3 separate regions of the Homo sapiens genome follow, and all the other regions are linked to region 2. The links come from fine-mapping of genetic effects on gene expression. A gene starts in region 2. Each other region holds a variant in brackets. All regions are shown on one strand. Distances are between the middles of the regions.

Evidence for each region. PIP is the estimated chance that this variant, and not a neighbour inherited with it, causes the effect.
Region 1: its variant is fine-mapped to the expression of HSD17B11 in whole blood (INTERVAL, PIP above 0.99).
Region 3: its variant is fine-mapped to the expression of HSD17B11 in whole blood (TOPMed, PIP above 0.99).

What each region holds. Positions count from the first base shown.
Region 1 is chr4:87,298,609-87,305,592 of GRCh38, reverse strand. It overlaps HSD17B13 (hydroxysteroid 17-beta dehydrogenase 13), which reads left to right. Exons shown (of 7, transcript NM_178135.5): 7 at 285-1,799. The coding sequence ends at 375. It overlaps MIR5705 (microRNA 5705), which reads left to right and starts at 5,010; the gene lies at 5,010-5,098. The variant A/T (reference allele first, on the strand shown) is at 3,064.
Region 2 is chr4:87,389,054-87,394,053 of GRCh38, reverse strand. HSD17B11 (hydroxysteroid 17-beta dehydrogenase 11) reads left to right here and starts at 2,866. Exons shown (of 7, transcript NM_016245.5): 1 at 2,866-3,193. The coding sequence starts at 2,984. RefSeq lists enhancers at 1,999-2,571, 2,585-2,654.
Region 3 is chr4:87,361,725-87,368,708 of GRCh38, reverse strand. The region is part of intron 4 of HSD17B11 (hydroxysteroid 17-beta dehydrogenase 11); the gene reads left to right. Among named protein-coding and RNA genes, the nearest start is that of HSD17B11, 26 kb to the left of the region's middle. The variant G/A (reference allele first, on the strand shown) is at 3,452.

The sequences.
Region 1 (6,984 bases), 89 kb after region 2:
ACTATAGCCACAAGGCATAATTTTACTGTCTCATTTCAATTTTATGAATTTGAATGTTTTTACACTTTTCCTAATGAAGTCCACTATGAAGTTATGTCAAAAAAAAAAAAGAAAAAGAAAGATGCACACGTAAAAGAGAGGTGGTTGCAAGAGAAGAAAAGAACGGAGGAAAGTTAAACGCAAACCAGATAACTCTCAGCGTATTCTAAATGACCAAAAACAGAACTCTGTTGTCAAAGATTTTAAATGGAAAATTTTTCAATTTTTTTTTCTTTTTTGTACAGGTTTCTTCCTGAACGCGCCTCAGCGATTTTAAATCGTATGCAGAATATTCAATTTGAAGCAGTGGTTGGCCACAAAATCAAAATGAAATGAATAAATAAGCTCCAGCCAGAGATGTATGCATGATAATGATATGAATAGTTTCGAATCAATGCTGCAAAGCTTTATTTCACATTTTTTCAGTCCTGATAATATTAAAAACATTGGTTTGGCACTAGCAGCAGTCAAACGAACAAGATTAATTACCTGTCTTCCTGTTTCTCAAGAATATTTACGTAGTTTTTCATAGGTCTGTTTTTCCTTTCATGCCTCTTAAAAACTTCTGTGCTTACATAAACATACTTAAAAGGTTTTCTTTAAGATATTTTATTTTTCCATTTAAAGGTGGACAAAAGCTACCTCCCTAAAAGTAAATACAAAGAGAACTTATTTACACAGGGAAGGTTTAAGACTGTTCAAGTAGCATTCCAATCTGTAGCCATGCCACAGAATATCAACAAGAACACAGAATGAGTGCACAGCTAAGAGATCAAGTTTCAGCAGGCAGCTTTATCTCAACCTGGACATATTTTAAGATTCAGCATTTGAAAGATTTCCCTAGCCTCTTCCTTTTTCATTAGCCCAAAACGGTGCAACTCTATTCTGGACTTTATTACTTGATTCTGTCTTCTGTATAACTCTGAAGTCCACCAAAAGTGGACCCTCTATATTTCCTCCCTTTTTATAGTCTTATAAGATACATTATGAAAGGTGACCGACTCTATTTTAAATCTCAGAATTTTAAGTTCTAGCCCCATGATAACCTTTTTCTTTGTAATTTATGCTTTCATATATCCTTGGTCCCAGAGATGTTTAGACAATTTTAGGCTCAAAAATTAAAGCTAACACAGGAAAAGGAACTGTACTGGCTATTACATAAGAAACAATGGACCCAAGAGAAGAAAAGGAAGAAAGAAAGGTTTTTTGGTTTTTGTTTTGTTTTGTTTTGTTTTTTGTTTTTTTGAGATGGAGTCTCACTCTTTCGCCCAGGCTGGAGTGCAGTGGTATGATCTCAGCTCACTGCAAGCTCCACCTCCCGGGTTCACGCCATTCTCCTGCCTCAGCCTCCTGAGTAGCTGGGACTACAGGCGCCCGCCACCACACCCGGCTAATTTTTTGTATTTTTTGTAGAGACGGGGTTTCACCATGTTAGCCAAGATGGTCTCGATCTCCTGACCTCGTGATCCACCTGCCTCGGCCTCCCAAAGTGCTGGGATTACGGGTGTGAGCCACCGTGCCCAGCCTTTTTTTTTTTAATAGAAAAAATAATCCGACTCCCACTACATCAAGACTAATCTTGTTTTGTGTGTTTTTCACATGTATTATAGAATGCTTTTGCATGGACTATCCTCTTGTTTTTATTAAAAACAAATGATTTTTTTAAAAGTCACAAAAACAATTCACTAAAAATAAATATGTCATTGTGCTTTAAAAAAATAACCTCTTGTAGTTATAAAATAAAACGTTTGACTTCTAAACTCTGTCTCTATGAGTGTCCTTCAAGAACCAAGGATGTGGATGGTAACAGCTACATCTGGCAGTTATTAAATGAATCCAGGGGTTTTCTCAACTCTGGTTTCTTTGACAGCAGGAGTGCTGGTTTATCAACTGGAACTTACTGACCCCTTTCTATGTGTGAGATTAAGCACAGTGCTATTGTTTCTAATTTTTTTTCTTAGTCACCGGCAATAATTTTTTTCATAACATTCTTTTAATTTCTTGCCTTATAATCAAGAAATTTATGAGTAAAATGTATTATTTTTAAAGTATGGTTACAAAAATTCAAAAGAGAAACATGGAAAGTAAAAAATAGAAGCTTACCCCCAGCAATCCCATTTCCCAGAGGTCACACTGTCAATGCACAATCTTCCAGTCTTTTACTGATGCATGTTCATGACAAATACATTATATTCTTATTGCATGGGTCGTATCAGTAGTTTCATACCATACATTATGTTCTGTAACTTGCTCTTTTAGCTTACCAACTTATCACAAACAGCTGTTTGTTTCAGTATAGAGAATTCAACTTTTTTTCATGAGTACACAGTACTAAAATGGTACTCTAACCATTCCCTTTTGATAGGCACTTAGGATGTTTCCAGTATTTCTTAGTTCATCTATTTAAATATTAATTTAACAAATACTGAGTGCCCTCAAAGTTCTAGGCCCAGGGAAACATATATGAATAAGGCAAACTCCTTGTCTTAACAGAGCTCACATTCTAGTAGGTGGGACAAACAATAAAGGGACTGCAAATATGAGAGAGAGCATTTAAAGTAGTAGAGTCAGGGAAGAGCACGCTGAGAAAGAACATTTTGCGGACGAACTATTACCATACACAGGCAACTAAAAAATATTTTATGATATACATATTGACAAAAATAGAAACCTCTTAAATTCCAGTGTTAAGTTCAGAGCAGAAAACTTCTTATTTTAATTCCATTTTGGTTTTAATCTTTTATGAATGAAGCTCAGAGAAATGTGCGAGCAAAATATTCATCTCTCTTTGTCCATTTTTCTTGCTTATTTTGAGTGTAGTCCTCCTCCTTAAAAGTTCCACCTGCAGCCAGGCGTGGTGACTCATGCTTGTAATCCTAGCACTTTGGGAGGCCAAGGGGGGCAGATCACCTGAGGTCAGGGGTTCGAGACCAGCCTGGCCAACAAGGCGAAACCCTGTCTCTACTAAATATACAAAATTTAGCTGGGCATGGTGGTACATGCCTGTAATCCCAGCTACTCAGG[A/T]GGCTGAGGCAGGAGAATCACTTGAACCTGGGAGGCGGAGGTTGCAGTGAGCTAAGATCACGCCACCGCACTCCAGCCTGGGCAACAGAGTGAGACTCCGTCTCAAAAAAATAAAAAGCTCCACCTGAGCTTCCAAATGTTTTCCTATGACAATCTTCATCTATAATTCTCTCTAAGAGCCCTCTCTTTCACCAAAATCCCAGTTCCAAGGGCTACTGCTAGGATGTGCAGATCACCAGACAAATATTTTTTTGCAGGGCTTCTATCTATATAAACACTTTTATTAAAAATGCTTTATAAAATTTATAGGTCCATGTGCATGCAGTATAGTGATTTTTTGATAAAGATTTAGAATAATAGGAAGATTTGTGTATTTATTGTCCGAGCAGTACATGTAAAGATTCTTCTCGGCATCCTGGTACTATCTCTTTGGTCCAGGAATCATTTCTTTTTTATCAAATGAGCCATTCCTAGCTAATTTCATATCTTTTACCACAAGAAAGGGTAGCAATGCTGTTATTATTCATAATGCCATGGCTCTTTGTAATATGTTTGTAATAAAATAATATGAATCTTCACCCCTTTCCAATACCCTGCTACCATTTATTTAATCTTAGCTACATTATGCCTTTTGACATTGCATCATCCATTGTGCTACCCATGAATACTGGGTATCACTCAGAGACAATCACTCAAAGATTGTTACTGGTACAACACAGTTCAATATAGTACAATTGTTACTGGTACAATGTTTGATGATAATCACAAATTCAAGTCTTACCCAGGGTATATATACGAGAAAACATGAATGATTCGTTGTTTATTGCTCATTTTAAATTTATCATTTAGAATGTTATAGCATCACATAGAACAACACATCTTTCAACTGTGTCTTGTCTTGAACTTTTTAGGCCATCATCATTACATTTCTAGAATTGATCTCTGCCACTCCTGACCGTACCCTACCTCCCACACACCACCAGCAGCAGAGAGGGGATTGTGGACAGAACAAAATGAACAGCCCCATTTGCACAAGGAATGTCTGTCCCTCCTCTAGGAGAGCTTAACATTGACCAGGGAGAAGAGAACACAGCATCATCACATCAGTCAGAAAGGCCCACTGTTGTGAAGAAGCAATAGTCTTAAAAGCCCTCAGAAGAGATAAGTGCAGCCACCCCCCAACCCCCAGCCAAAAGGACTGCCTGACCCATGGCATAGAACCTGCAGAGGGGATAGGATGATTTTCCTGAATGCCATTGGCAAGCGGGGTAAGGACATCTGATGTCACCCTGCAGCCCTTGGATGTTATATAGCAGAAGTGGCATCATACTCAGAACAAACTGCGAGTGGATGCATGGGTCAACACATGCGGCTTGGGCAGTGGACCTTAGATAGCTTACAACCCTAAATTAGATCTATGCCCAATGTGAGTGAGAATTATCCAAAATCAGCATGTCAGCATCATTCTGGCAGCCAAATTTCATGTAATCCTGCAAAAGAAATTCTTTGCCAACCAGAAGTAGCAGTCTGCTCTCCAGGCCACCCTCCTGAAACGAAAGCCTGGAAACAAGACCCCAGGATGATCCTATAGTTACAAGTTGCAGAGCTCCCCAGGATATCTGGTCAACCTTATACACAGGGAGAGAAAGGGAGAGTACCCCAGAGAGAAAAAACAGAGCAGGCATCCGAAGAGGACTTGGAAAATTTCATAGAGGGCACTCCAAAGAATAAGGCTCTATGAGGCACAGGACTGGGGTAAGGCCCTCACTTGCTCAGATCTGAGGGTGGTATAGGTACAGCCAATCTTCAACTGTATGCAAAGCTTAAAGGAGTAGCAGAGTAAATGTATGGTTGAAGAGAAAATGCTTGGTTAGTTTCTAATCTAAATCTTATATGATCTATATAATAATGTTTCCAAAGATGGAATGAACATCTAACATTAAAGTTCCCCATTTACACAGGCCATGAGCCCCGAAACACCCATCCCAGGATTGCTGATGGGTGTTTCGGGGCTCATGGCCTGTGTAAATGGGGAAGTTTAAACATGCCCTTGCAGCATGGCTGCCGCATGAGAGGCATGTTGGAAATACAAACTGTTGCAACCCATCTCAAACTTACAAAATCAGAATCTGCATTTTTTAAAAACTCCTAGGTAATTCATATGTTTTAGAGGCATCTTTTTTTATAACACTAACTTTGAATTTAGTGCAGCATTATGTGAACTGGGCTGTTCTGTACATGTGATAATTACAACGAATTTAACAGTTACCCTTGTGTTTATGTCTTCACAAATTACGTGAGAAACCGTAAGGGGGAAATGCCAATCCCTGTCCTAAGAGTGCTCTCACGCTTTCTACTATTTGCTTCCTCTTGTGTCTAAAAGTTTTCAGACAGCTCATGACCTTTTCTATTCAGCTCTTCAAATCTGCCAAGTGTTTTGCTGAAACCCCTTCTTTATCTGATTGGATGTATTACATCTGATCAAATTTGCCTGTCAGCTGCTTGCAGCAAGGGTGGAATTACAGGAAAGTTAAGTGGGAACTTACTTGTATTTAATGGGAATCTTTTATAGTAAAAGTAATCACAGTGAAATCAAAGCAAGTACATTCTGACTTGCCTAGGGTGCAATCATGTCTCATTCAAACTAACTTCACAAACCCAGTGAGCAGCTAGAGAATATTCATAAATTCACATCAAAACACTTATGAAAAGTGAAGTCATTTACCAATTGCACTCCAGTAATGATCCATTATCTCAATAGAGATCTTCTTACTTTTAAATGTGAGGCTAACTTGTATAAATTAAGACTTAAATATTCCCAAACAACACTGAAAACCAAATTGCCTGTTCCCATACCTAATTCCAATAACTAGGATTTTTCACTTTTTTTTTTTTCTTTTTGAGACAGAGTCTCACTTTGTCACCCAGGCTGGAGTGCAGTGGTGTGATCTTGGCTCACTGCAGCCTCCATTTCCCGGGTTCAAGGGATTCTCCAGCCTCAGCCTCCTGAGTACCTGGGTTTATAGGCATGCACCACTACATCCAGCTAATTTTTGTACTTTTAGTAGAGACAGGGTTTCACTATGTTGGCCAGACTGGTCTCGAACTCCTGGCCTCCAGTGATCAGCCCGCCTCGGCCTCCCAAAGTGCTGAGATTATGGGCGTGAGTCACTGCACCCAGCCCTGGATTTTTTGACTTTCTGTTTCTCAACACCTCTTTCCTTCTGATGGCTCTTTACTAATTAGTTCAGACTTCGTTCAATTAATTTGATGCATTTAGTTCTCTACTTCTCTTCCATTGTTCTCTTTCTCTTTTCAGCCTTCTCTTTCTAAGCTTCTCCCCACATTCTAATCTAGTCTGGAAACATAGCCTATTTTTCAGTCATCAAAACTATCCTGTATTACCTATGTAGCAGGAAAAAAAAAAAGACCACTTGATGTTGAATTCAATTTGGAATGATGTGATTTAAATATTTCAAACAATATTGCAGTTCCAGTGTACCTTGTTATCTAACAATATTGCACATTTGAGAGTATTATTTTCTATGCTGGTGAATTTAATGTAGAAATATTCAAGATAAACTACAACAACTCATAGACTTTTTCAAGCCAAAACAAGGCTTTTTCTACAATTCATTCAAGAAAAGATATTCACTCGGCAACTTTGATAGGAAATACATGATGCTAGAATGTAGAAAAATCAGAGAGGAAGATGTGATCCTTGCTTTAAAGATGTTTACAACAGATCAGCTAATCCAGCCTGTTTGTAAATAACAACTCACTCAAAGAAAAATAGGGTTAGTCCCTTTGAAAAGTTACTAACCAAGTGCTTTGTGAATAGACAGCATGATTAATTTGGGTGACAGGGCAAATCTTTGCTGAGGAGATGCAATTAAAGATATTAAAGAGGAGGAGGTGCAA
Region 2 (5,000 bases):
TTCTGGTTCAAGTTAGGGTTTAAAAAAAAAAATTAAAGAAAAATACCCCCTTATCCTTATCTTTTTTTTTTTTTTTTAAATACTATTTCAACTTCTGGGAAGGCAGCATGTAATTAAGATGCCCCACATAGGCTGGGTGCAGTGGCTCGCACTTGTAATCCTAGCACTTTGGGAGGCCAAGGCCGGTGAATTGGTTGAGCCCAGGAGTTCAAGACCAGCCTCTACCAGGGTAGGGACACCCTGCCTCTATCAAAAATACAAAAATTAGCTAGTCTCATAATCCGGTCTCAAAATAAATAGATAAAAAATTTTTTAAAAAACAGATGTCCCAAGTACAAAATATTTTAAACCCTACCAATGAAAGATGTTTTTTAAAACCACAAATACATAAAATCACATAGTGGTCAGATAGAAGCTAATCTGTGTTCTAACTGTGAATGATTTTAATTGTAAACATCTAGTTTGCTGTTCACAAAATCATGTTACAACCATCATTCACAAGACCATTCACATCACTCACATTCTATTGGTGTTAATTATAATTTACATAAAGTTGAATAGTTGATAAAGCAATGTGCTTTCTATTAACTCGTTTGAACGTCACAAGAATCCTGTAGGGTAAGTATTATTTCAATTTTACAAATTTAGAAACATGTTTAGAGAGATGAAGTCACATACACATAAGGGATTCAGGTACGACTGCGTCCAAATGCTGTGTTCTTTCCCTTAACCAATGAAACCTTGATCAACTGTAGGTTAAAACTACCCAGTTTTTTTTAATTAATAGAATGGAATAAGAAATAGCATAGCCAGACCGTGTGCCATGGCTCACGCCTGTAATCCCAGCACTTGGGAAGACCAAGGTGGGTGGAACAGGAGATCGAGATTGAGACCATCCTAGCCAACATGGGGAAACCCTGTCTACTAAAAATACAAAAATTAGCTGGGTGTGGTGGTGCGTGCCTGTAGTCCCAGCTACTTGGGAGGCTGAGGCAGGAGAATCGCTTGAACCTGGGAGGTGGAGGTTGAGGTTGCTGTGAGCCAAGATTTCGCCACTGCACTCCAGCCTGGAGACAGAGGGAGACTCCTTTAAAAAAAAAAAAAATAGCATAGCTAGAGCCTCAATATATGAAACTCAACATAGTTGAAACACTTCTTATAGTAGATCACCATGTCAGATGTAATTTATTCCTGTAGGTGTTGGACCAAAAAATTGACAAACACTGAACATATGTGTAGCCCCAGTTACACTTTTACTCACTGTGTAGATTTTAAAGTTGATCTAACAGATTTATTCATTTACAGTATAGGTATAAATATATCCTGACTCTACTTTTCTCTATTTCCTAGGAGGCTTTTGAAAATCAAATGAAATAATATATGTGGAAGAACACTTTGTAAACTTTCTATACAAGTGTTTTGTAAATTTGGATTTGGAGGCTATCCAAAAAAAAGTTGTAGATATTCTGAATTCAAAGAATTCTATAATGGGGTTCACTTTTGTGAGGCTGCCACTATCCCTTCATCCCCTATAACAACGTATGGCTGCTTAAGTAAGAGGGACAATCGAGTTTGAACTATTTGTGAACTTTGATTTTTTTGTGTGATCTTTCTGGCTCTTAAATATGAAAGTTGACTATTGTCACACAACAAAGTCCCTTCCCAAGCACTGGAGTGTCTTGCGCAAAACCCAAATCCAATGTCTGTCAAAAATGAGTTGGAAAAAAATGCATGCAATACCATTATTAAGCTCTTACTGGACACAAGCCCTAGTTAGGTCTTTTCTTCCAGTAACCAATCTCTAGAATTTTTTCAAGTCACTAGTTAGCATATACTGAATACCCATTTATATAGGCTACAAAACCAAATGTTACATAGGTAATCTTTAGGCTAAATGATTTGCTATTTATTCACTTGAATAAAGATAAAATTCCTAAAGTACAACATATATTTTTTATTTTCAAACTCTAATAGGTCAAGTGAAAAATGATTATTCAAATATACTCTTCTTTCTTGTGGAAACAATCCCTTTAATACGATAACAATTTTTTCTGGCGCTTGATTGAAGCTGTCCTTGAACAGACAAAATTTCCCCTGTCTTCCAGAAATCGTGCTTAGTTCAAACTAAAATGTGATGTAGCGCAATTTCTCAGCTGGAAGCAGAACGATTGGTCTTTTCAGGATCCTTTAAGATAGGAATCTACATTTGCATCCTCTATCTAGTTTTTGTTTTTTAGGACAAAGTCTGGCCTTTTCGTCCAGGCTGGAGTGCAGTGGCGCGATCTTCACTCACTGTAGCCTCCACCTCCTGGACTCAAGCAATTCCCGTGCCTCAGTCTCTCGAGTAGCTGGAACTACAGGCACACGCCACTACGCCTGGCTAATTAAAAAAAAAAAAAAAGAGACCGGGGGTCTCCCTATGTTGTTCAGGCTGATCTCGAACTCCTGGGGTCAAGCGATCCTCCCGCCAGGGCTTCTCAAAGTGCCAGGATCACAGGCGAGAGCCGCCGCGCCCAGCGGCACCCCCTATCTAGTGATAAGCAACCTTCAACTATGAAAGAAGCATCTGGCCTGTGGACACTGTCGGTTATCCTTGGAACTTATCCAATTTAGGAAAACAAGTGAGCAACTAACCCTCCAAGGCCGGCTCACGACACCGGGAGAAAGTGGTGTAAAAGACAATCGCGGCCACACACCGCGTGGGGGCTGCGCAAAGCAGAACTAGGAAGCTTTGCTCCGGTCTGGACTTCGTCCCTCCCAGATCTCTGAGCTAGCAAGCACTGCAGCCCGAGCCAATTGCGAAAGACCAACAAAGCCCAGCCCAGCGGAAGGAACGGTTTCGGAGTTGTTTTTCTTTGATACGGGAGTTCCTCCTTGCTCTCGCCCCTACTCTTTCTGGTGTTAGATCGAGCTACCCTCTAAAAGCAGTTTAGAGTGGTAAAAAAAAAAAAAAACACACCAAACGCTCGCAGCCACAAAAGGGATGAAATTTCTTCTGGACATCCTCCTGCTTCTCCCGTTACTGATCGTCTGCTCCCTAGAGTCCTTCGTGAAGCTTTTTATTCCTAAGAGGAGAAAATCAGTCACCGGCGAAATCGTGCTGATTACAGGAGCTGGGCATGGAATTGGGAGACTGACTGCCTATGAATTTGCTAAACTTAAAAGCAAGCTGGTTCTCTGGGATATAAATAAGGTAACAGTGTTTACTATGTTTTACTTTCTGGTACCTTTAATTTGTGGATGTGTCTGCATTTTGCTGGCAACCACCCTTTACCTCATCTCTGCAAAGCAGGGAGGAAAAAAAAATTAGTATTGCCATTTTGCAGATGGGAGGGCATGAATTAATATGTTGTATGATCACATGATAAACAGACCTAGAGGTTATAATAGTCCCAGTTACTGCCCCATTTGTAAATTGATCCCCATTTTTGCCCTAAGGATAACTCATAATTTTTTCCTGAACCTGATTTCATTGATCCCTCTATTTTAAAAATAGGGAAAAAACAATCGTTTTAGCTATATATTAAAAGAGTAAGAAGCTTGTACCTATTAAGAGAAAGTCCTACTTACTGTTAATGAGAAAAGTGGTTTGAAAGATTATACTCGCCGTTGGCTCACGCCTGTAATCCCAGCACTTTGGGAGTCCAAGGCAGGCGGATCGCGAGGTCAGGAGATCGAGACCATCCTAACACACTGAAACCCCGTCTCTACTAAAAATACCAAAAAAAAATTAGCCGGGCGTGGTGGCGGGCGTCTGTAGTCCCAGCTATTGGGGAGGCTGAGGCAGGAGAATGGCGGGAACCCCGCGGGGCGGAGGTTGCAGTGAGCCAAGATGGCGCCACTGCACTTCAGCCTGGGCGACAGAGCTAGACTCCGTCTCAAAAAACAAACAAAAAGATTATACTCAACAGAAACCAATGCTACATTGCCATAGTTATTGCCAAGAGTAATTTTAAAAAGCATCTTTTCCGGGAGGCTGAGGTGGGGGGTTGCTTGAGCCTGGGAGGTGGAGACTGCAGTGAGCTGTAAACGCCCCACTGCACTCCAGCCTGGGTGACAGAGTGAGACCCTGTCTCAAATTTTTTTAAAAAACATTTTTTACCACGTTTGACCTGTGATACTGAAGGAGTGGCGGGAAAGCATCTTTTAGTAAAAACAATAAAAGGGAAAAAAACTTTCAGTGTAATTTTTTACCTAGGACAAGTGTAGGTGTGGCTTAGGGAGGAGAAGAGGACCTAGAATCCAACCTTTTATTTGACCTTTGGTAGATGAACAAAGGGGTTTCTAGAAGATACCTGATGGCCTGAAACATTATCCATTACACACTAGTTGACATGCAATGCTGTAAACAATAATTCAAAGGATGTGAAGTTAAATGAGGGTTAACCCAGTGAGTGGCTGATGAAGACAGCAATCAACAAATAATGACTGTCTGCTGCTTAGACATTAGGGATAGGGTGACAAACAGAAAATAAGGTTCCATGACCTCAGTCTAGTAGGGAAAATGGACATTAAGTAATTACAAGTGCAGGCTGGATGCGGTGGCTCACACTTGTAATCCCAGCACTTTTGGAGGCCGAGGCGGGCAGATGACCTGAGGTCAGGAGTTCAAGACCAGCCTGGCTAACATGGTGAAACCCCATTTCTACCAAAAATACAAAAAATTAGTTGAGCGTGGTGGCGTGTACTTGTAATCCCAGCTACTCATGAGGCTGAGGCAGGAGAACTGCTTGAACCTGGGAGGCAGAGGTTGCAGTGAGCCGAGATCATGCCATTGCATTCCAGCTTGGGCAACAAGAGCAAAACTCTGTCTTAAAAATAAATAAATTAATTAAATTAAATTAATAAATAAAAAAGTAATTACAAGAGCAATGAAAAATACAACCCAGGTCCAGCCTGGACCAGCATGGTCAAGGTCTGGCATGGTGATATAGTCAGACACATCTGAGCTTTCGTTTTCTGATTGGGTAACTTACTCAACGTTTCCACAGCTTTAGTTC
Region 3 (6,984 bases), 26 kb after region 2:
TTTATCATCAGCGAGGTCTTTATGACCTGTATTTTGTGCTGACCTCCTATCTCATCCTGTGACTTAGAATGCGTTAACAGTCTGGGAATGCAGTCCGGTAGGTTTCAGCCTCATTTTACCCAGCTCCTATTCAAGATGGAGTTGTTCTGTTTCACATGCCTCTTGACATTTCCCCCTTCCCTTTTATAAGAGAACTCTTAATCCTAAGAGTTGCAGACGGATGAAAATCCATCTTTTGTAACTTCTTCAGGCTGAATGGGGCCATGATATTCCTGCCTAACTGTTAGGGTCTCTTGTGTTCAGGGTAGAGAGGAGCTTAGTCAGAAAGCATCAGTGTGGCGAGGGCCATTCATGACTCTTGAGTTTTTTGTGTGTGTGTTTTTTGTTTTTTTGAGATGGAGTCTCGCTCTGTCACCCAGGCTGGAGTGCAGTGGTGCGATCTCAGCTCGCTGCAAACTCTGCCTCCCGGGTTCATGCCATTCTCCTGCCTCAGCCTCCTGAGTAGCTGGGACTACAGGTGCCCGCCACCACACCCGGCTAATTTTTTGTATTTTTAGTAGAGACGGGATTTCACCATGTTAGCCAGGATGGTCTTGATCTCCTGACCTTGTGATCCACCCGCCTCGGCCCCCCAAAGTGCTGGGATTACAGGCATGAGCCACCGTGCCTAGCCGACTCTTGAGTTTTGACAAGAGGTGATATCTGGGAGATTAATAAGTATTTAGTTTAAGAAAACATTTAGTAAGCCTGTCCTGTGTTCCCACACAAAGGGTATAACAGCAATATATTCCATAAGAGTAAAGCAAAGTAAGTAAAGTTATTCCAAGTAAACTAAATTAGAAGGCTTTCCATGAACTGGGCAACTGTTGAGACCAAGCTGATATGGGGTTGCTAGCTGATTGCAATGTGCCTAGAATTTTACATTACCCATCCCTCTTGTTTCTTCTGAGCAGCAGTTAGAGATCCCTGGTTGGTTTACAGGAATAAACAGGGTTAGCCTAAATTGCAGAAACAAACTTAAAAACAACTGAGACTAGAATTTAATAACAAGTATACTATAGTTCTTGAAATATAATATTCTCTCTCCAGTTTCCCATTTTTATTAAAGACACATTATGGTAAGACTGATTTGCTTTATTATACTTGGTCTGATTATTTGTATAAAGTGCAGCGAGAATAATTATTTTTCACACAGGCTTTTTAATTGGCTTTGATGGAACTCTGTTTTATAAGGAATCTCAGGTAAGACTTTTTTAAAGCTAAGCCCTGCCATGGGTTTGTACCCTTAAATACCTATGAGTTGGGTAAAACACTTTTCTTTTGAGGTCCCAAGTTAACTTGGGCCTCCTGGACCTGTAAGAAAGTGACATTCTTTACTTACCATAGGTCAGAAACCCTGTACAGGGACTGTGTAGGCAAAGTATGAGGCCAGTTTCCCATAGGGCTTTTATTGGCTTTACAAGTCAAGTTTGATTCTTTAAAGGAAAGCACACCATTCCAGTCAAAGCCTTGGTAAAATAACCAATTTCTCCAATAGTGTCCCATTACAAAAGAAAACAGATTTTTGTTGCACTTATACAAACAACTATATTGCCATAAGTTAAGAATACTTACAATTGGTTTCCATTCCGGAGAAATCAGGTAGAGAGAAACAAATATGTTTCAAATTTTGTTCATAGGAGTATATTTTACTTAATTGCTGCAAGCTGTAAATAGCTTAAAAGAAGTTTCCTTTGAAAAATAAAAGATCAGCAATATTTTAAGCAAAGTTAAAAAAAATTACTTCAGTTTTCTATTGGTTCAGTTAATTCAGTTAACTCCTGTTCTACTTGTTATTCATGAACATTCCAGCTTTTTATGAGAGTTTCGAAAGTTGTTTTCTTTATTTTAATGTTACAATTTCTAAAGTTATTAGCAACCTGCATTTAAGAACATCTGCTAGAATTCTATAGTTGATTATAAACCACCTTTTAAAGAAGATTAAAACAAGACAACAACTGTCTGTGGATGATAAAAACTTTAGGACAGCCACTATTAAAGCCACAATTGATAAGGAAATTTGGTTACTTTTGTGGCATACAAAATTTTACATAACAATTATAATTATTAGTAACATACACTAAGTCATATTAGAAATAAAGGAGTTTCTTATAACTTTGGAACATATACCAATAACATATTTATACAAATATAGTCCAAAGAAAGCAAAACACTGTTTCACATTTGAGAATGCTTCCTGGATGATTTTTATACCAAATAAGCGAAATTTCACCTTTACATTAATGTATTATTAATGTTAAACCCAATTTTTAATAAAACCTTAGAGACATATTTACCCAATTTTAATGTTTAATCCTAAGGTAAGATTTTATAAACCTTTATAACCCTTTACATTTTTTTGTGAAAGCGCAGATAAGTCCTCTAAGAGAAACCTGTTGTGCTTTTATTCCAATGTTTAATTTATGGAAAAACTGAATAATACCCCTTTAACTTTAGCTAATATGTTCATACACAGAATCTCTTACAATTAATTTTTATAAACCTTCCACAAAGGCCAGGTGCAGTGGCTCACACCTGTATATCCCAACACTTTGGGAGGCCAAGATGGGTGGATCACCTGAGGTCGGAAGTTCAAGACCAGCCTGATCAACATGGAGAAACCCTGTCTCTACTAAAAATACAAAATTAGCCAGGCATGGTGGCACATGCCTGTAATCCCAGCTACCTGGGAGGCTGAGACAGAAGAATTGCTTGAACCCGGGAAGCAGAGGTTGCGGTGAGTCAAGATCACGCCATTGCACTCCAGCCTGGGCAACAAGAACAAAACTCCATCTAAAAAAAACCTTCCACAACTTCTTTAAATCTTTTTTTTTTTTTCACTTAACACAATCCTTTAACACTTTAATCTAGGCAGAAAATAATCCGCATTCCCATGCTTCTTCTTACAATTTTTTTTTTAACCAAAAACACATTTCACCTTTTTTATACACCTTGCATGTAAAACTGTTTCTTCAGTAGTCTTAATTACACATTACAATGCTAACTTCTAGCAACTTTTATTTTTGATGAAAACGTTGGTTAAGTAAGGGATTTTAATTATGTACTAGGTGTGGAGACTAGTCTAGGACACACCAGGCAGAAGTGCAGATAAGGGCTGACTCTCCAGCATAGCCAGGGGCATGAGGCCTTATCTAGAATCTGATGGCTTTAAAGTAGGTAAATAGAACAGTTTTCAAAAGTTAAAGAAACAGTTTGTCCTTAAAGCATTTAGCAAATCTGATATCTGACCTTAATTTAGACCAAATGTCTACATTTTTAAGACATTTTATTTTACCAATAAACTTTAAAACTGTCTTTATTTTCAAAAGATTACTAAAGTCACACGAACAAAAAGGCATTAGTTTCTATTTTTCTGAAAAAATATTTACGCACTTACTTTTCTAAGTCAATT[G/A]ATTAGAGCTTTGTAATATATAAACATACACTATAAATAGAAGATTCAGCACTTATACAGTTTTTCGTTTGCCAGTTTCTTTTTTTTTGAGACAAAGTTTCGCTCTTGTCACCCAGGCTGGAGTGCAGTGGCATGATCTTGGCTCACTGCAACCTCTGCCTCCCAGGTTCAAGTGATTCTCATGCCTCAGCCTCCCGCGTAGCTGGGATTACAGGCGCCCACCACCACACCCAGCTAATTTTTGTATTTTTACTAGAGACGGGTTTTCCCCATGTTGGCCAGGCTGGTCTTGAACTCCTGACCTCAAGTGATCCGCCCACCTCAGCCTCCCAAAGTGCTGGGATTACAGGCATGAGCCACCTCGCCCCACCATTTGCCAGTTTCTTAATTGGATGACAGGTTTCAGAGTGGAGCCCTTGGAGGAACAGAGCTGGGACAGCATGCATTTCTAGGGCTAAATAAGTAGCAAATAAGCAGCTGAAGGCAGACAGATCTCCAAAATTAAAGGTGGTATTTTATACTGGATCCTGGATCCCCAAAAGGAGGGAAATACTACGGGAGAAGACAATGCAGTGCTTTTACCGACTGTGCATTTCATTGCAAGGCAACCTAAAGCCAATCAGCCCATTTTGTAATCAGCCCATCCTCATGAGAGTCTCATCTCCCAGTGAGGGGTGAGGATGTTGCCTTATCTTCCAGGTGGCCTAGAGCATGCTTCTCTGATCCAAGTGTGCAGAGTCAAGTATCCCTCCATAACTACTATTAGCCACCCCTTAAAGTACATTTCCTACCTAGTTGTTACACACCAAAGCTCTCTCATAATGCAAAGTAATTGCTGATAACCCCCCTCCCCCAAACTCAAAACCGTCAGATAACACAATGCAAAACAGAACAGAGCCTTTGATTTTGAGAGGAATCTATCTGCTTTTAATTCTTGGGGTCTCATGAGGAAAACAGAGGGGTTTTTTTTCTTTTTTTTTTTTTTTTCCCAAAACTGGATCTGTGGTGCTGCCTTTGTTTTTCCCAAGTAGTCCCAAGCTACCAGAAGTTATCTACGGGCCTTTCATGTGAGCATTAATAGTAACAAGACAAAACAAAACAAAACAAAACAAAAAAACAAAAATAATTCACTTGACTGAGAAGAAAAAACCTTTTTCCAGCAAAACAAGCTTCAAGAAGAGAAAAACATAAAGGCCTTTTAAATATATTTATAGCTTATTCCACTTTTAATTAAGCTGACTTTTCACCATAGTGCTCTTTAAAGAAGAAATCCTTTCAGAGCTCTTATTACCCGACTTTAGCCATGCCAAGCGGCCAATATTTCCAGCTTCTGAACTTTACCAAAGGTAAACTCCTAGGTGCTTAGAAGAAGGAAAATTGAAGACAGTCCATGGAGGAGAAGAGAATAGACACATATATTAAATCAGTAATGACTTATTTCCTGGGTGGGGAATTGAACCTAGACTGCCACTGTGAAAGTGCAAAACCTTAGCTACTGAGCTACAGGTCTGGGCAGTGTCTATTTCTTTTCTCAGAAGTAGTCTAGATTAGTTAATTTTGAGCTTGCAAAGGCTTTTAACTATTTAATATGATTTTCAGAGCTGGCTATGACATGAACTTTAAAATTCTTGTTCCCTGGAAGACAGAGCCCAAGAGAAGGTACTGCCATGCGGTTAAAAGGTCAAGCTCCCAAGCACATAAAACAAGGTGGAGACTTCATCGGGTTTTTTGTTTGTTTCAGGGACCTGCAACCAAGTTTGTTACTGACCAGCTTGCTGGGTAGTCTTGAAAAGCGGGCTTACAGGTGTTCTAAGCCCATGTTTTATCCTGAAGTACCCCTCTACACGGAAAAACGAATTCATAGCACAAAATACACCAGCTTAAGACTAGCCTTAGAATTCTTTTTCGCATTAATTAAGTCTTTACAGAGGTGATAAACACTGATTTTTTTTCCATTCATTCAACTGTTTGCACAGAGAGAGAGAAGCTAAAAATCTGACTGGTAACAAATTCTTAGCCTTTTGCTGGCATGCCAGGCTTCTGGGTTCCTTTTCCCTGAGCAGCCCTAGTGATCGGGCTTGTGGCACCATCTCCCCGGGGGCCAAGCTGCATCATAAAGGAAAAAAATTTTTTTTTTCATTTTGACCAGAGCAAAATATGCATGATAAAACATAGACATTAGCTACTCTGCTTAGCACCCAATATCAAACTGGCAAGGCTTAAATTTACCCCCAGTTGGGCCCCATCATCTTTAATCCAACCTCTGACTTGGAATTTCAACATGTGGTCTCTGGGCAAGAAGGTCGCCCTGAGAAATAGAAAAGATAAGAAAGGGAAAGGAAAAGTAGAGACGGAAAGTATTGCCTGTGGCAGGGTGGGGAAGGCAAAATGATCAGGGAGGCCAGAGAAAGACCCACCTATTGCAGCAACACTGAAAACTTCAGGCTGCTGCTGTCGGTTGAGCAGGGATCTTTTTCAGCAATCCTGTCAGCTCTCAAGTTTCCCCTTTTAGGCAGGAAAAAGCTCCCCATGTCCCACGATCCTGTGCATGCCTAACCCTGTCACCCATAGCCATCAGCAAAGAGTACAAAGGCAGATTAATCCAAAGAGAACAGCAGTTAACATCCCATAGTGCCAAACCTGTTCTTAGCTGAAAGGGACTTTACTGAGAGGGTCCTCTAACCCCCTAAATCTTATTCATTTTATTTATTATTTTATTATATTTTATTTTTGAGATGGAGTCTCGCTCTGTTGGCCAGGCTGGAGTGCAGCAGCACAATCTCGGCTCACTGCAACCTCGGCCTCCCGGGTTCAAGCAATTCTCCTGCCTCAGTGTCCTGAGTAGCTGGGATTACAGGCATGCATCACCACGTCTGGCTAATTTTTGTATTTTTAGTAGAGACCGGGTTTCACCGTGTTGGCCAAGCTGGTCTCGAACTCCTGACCTCAAGTGATCCACCCGCCTTGGCCTCCCACAGTGCTGGGGATTACAGGCGTGAGCCACTGCACCTGGCCTAACCTCCTAAATCTTAGAAGGGACTCTAATCCTCCTAAGTCAGGCCTCTAACTTGACGTCAGTCAAGTGTCCTTGCCTTTTATTAAGAAGGACCTGTAACCCACTCTGTCTTAGGAGAGACTCTAACTCCCCTAAGTTGGGCCTCTAACCCAATCCCATTCTTTACCCAGGTGTAGGCACCCCACTTACTCAAAGTCAGCCCACTGTTGTGCCCTGATGATTTTCCTTTGGGTCAGGGGTCTCTTCAGTATTGTAACTCTATGGTCTGCCAGAAATATGTTACAGGACCCCAACACTTACCCAAAGGTAGCCATAGGGTCAGGGTTTCTGCACTTTAGTCCCTTCGTGGTTGCCAGAAAGATGTTACCAGAAAGGGGTCCCGATCCAGACCCCAAGAGAGGGTTCTTGGATCTCATGAAAGAAAGAATTCAGGGTGAGTCCACAGTGCAAAGTGAAAGAAAGTTTATTTATTTTTGAGACAGAGTCTCGCTCTGTTGCCCATGATGGAGTGCAGCGG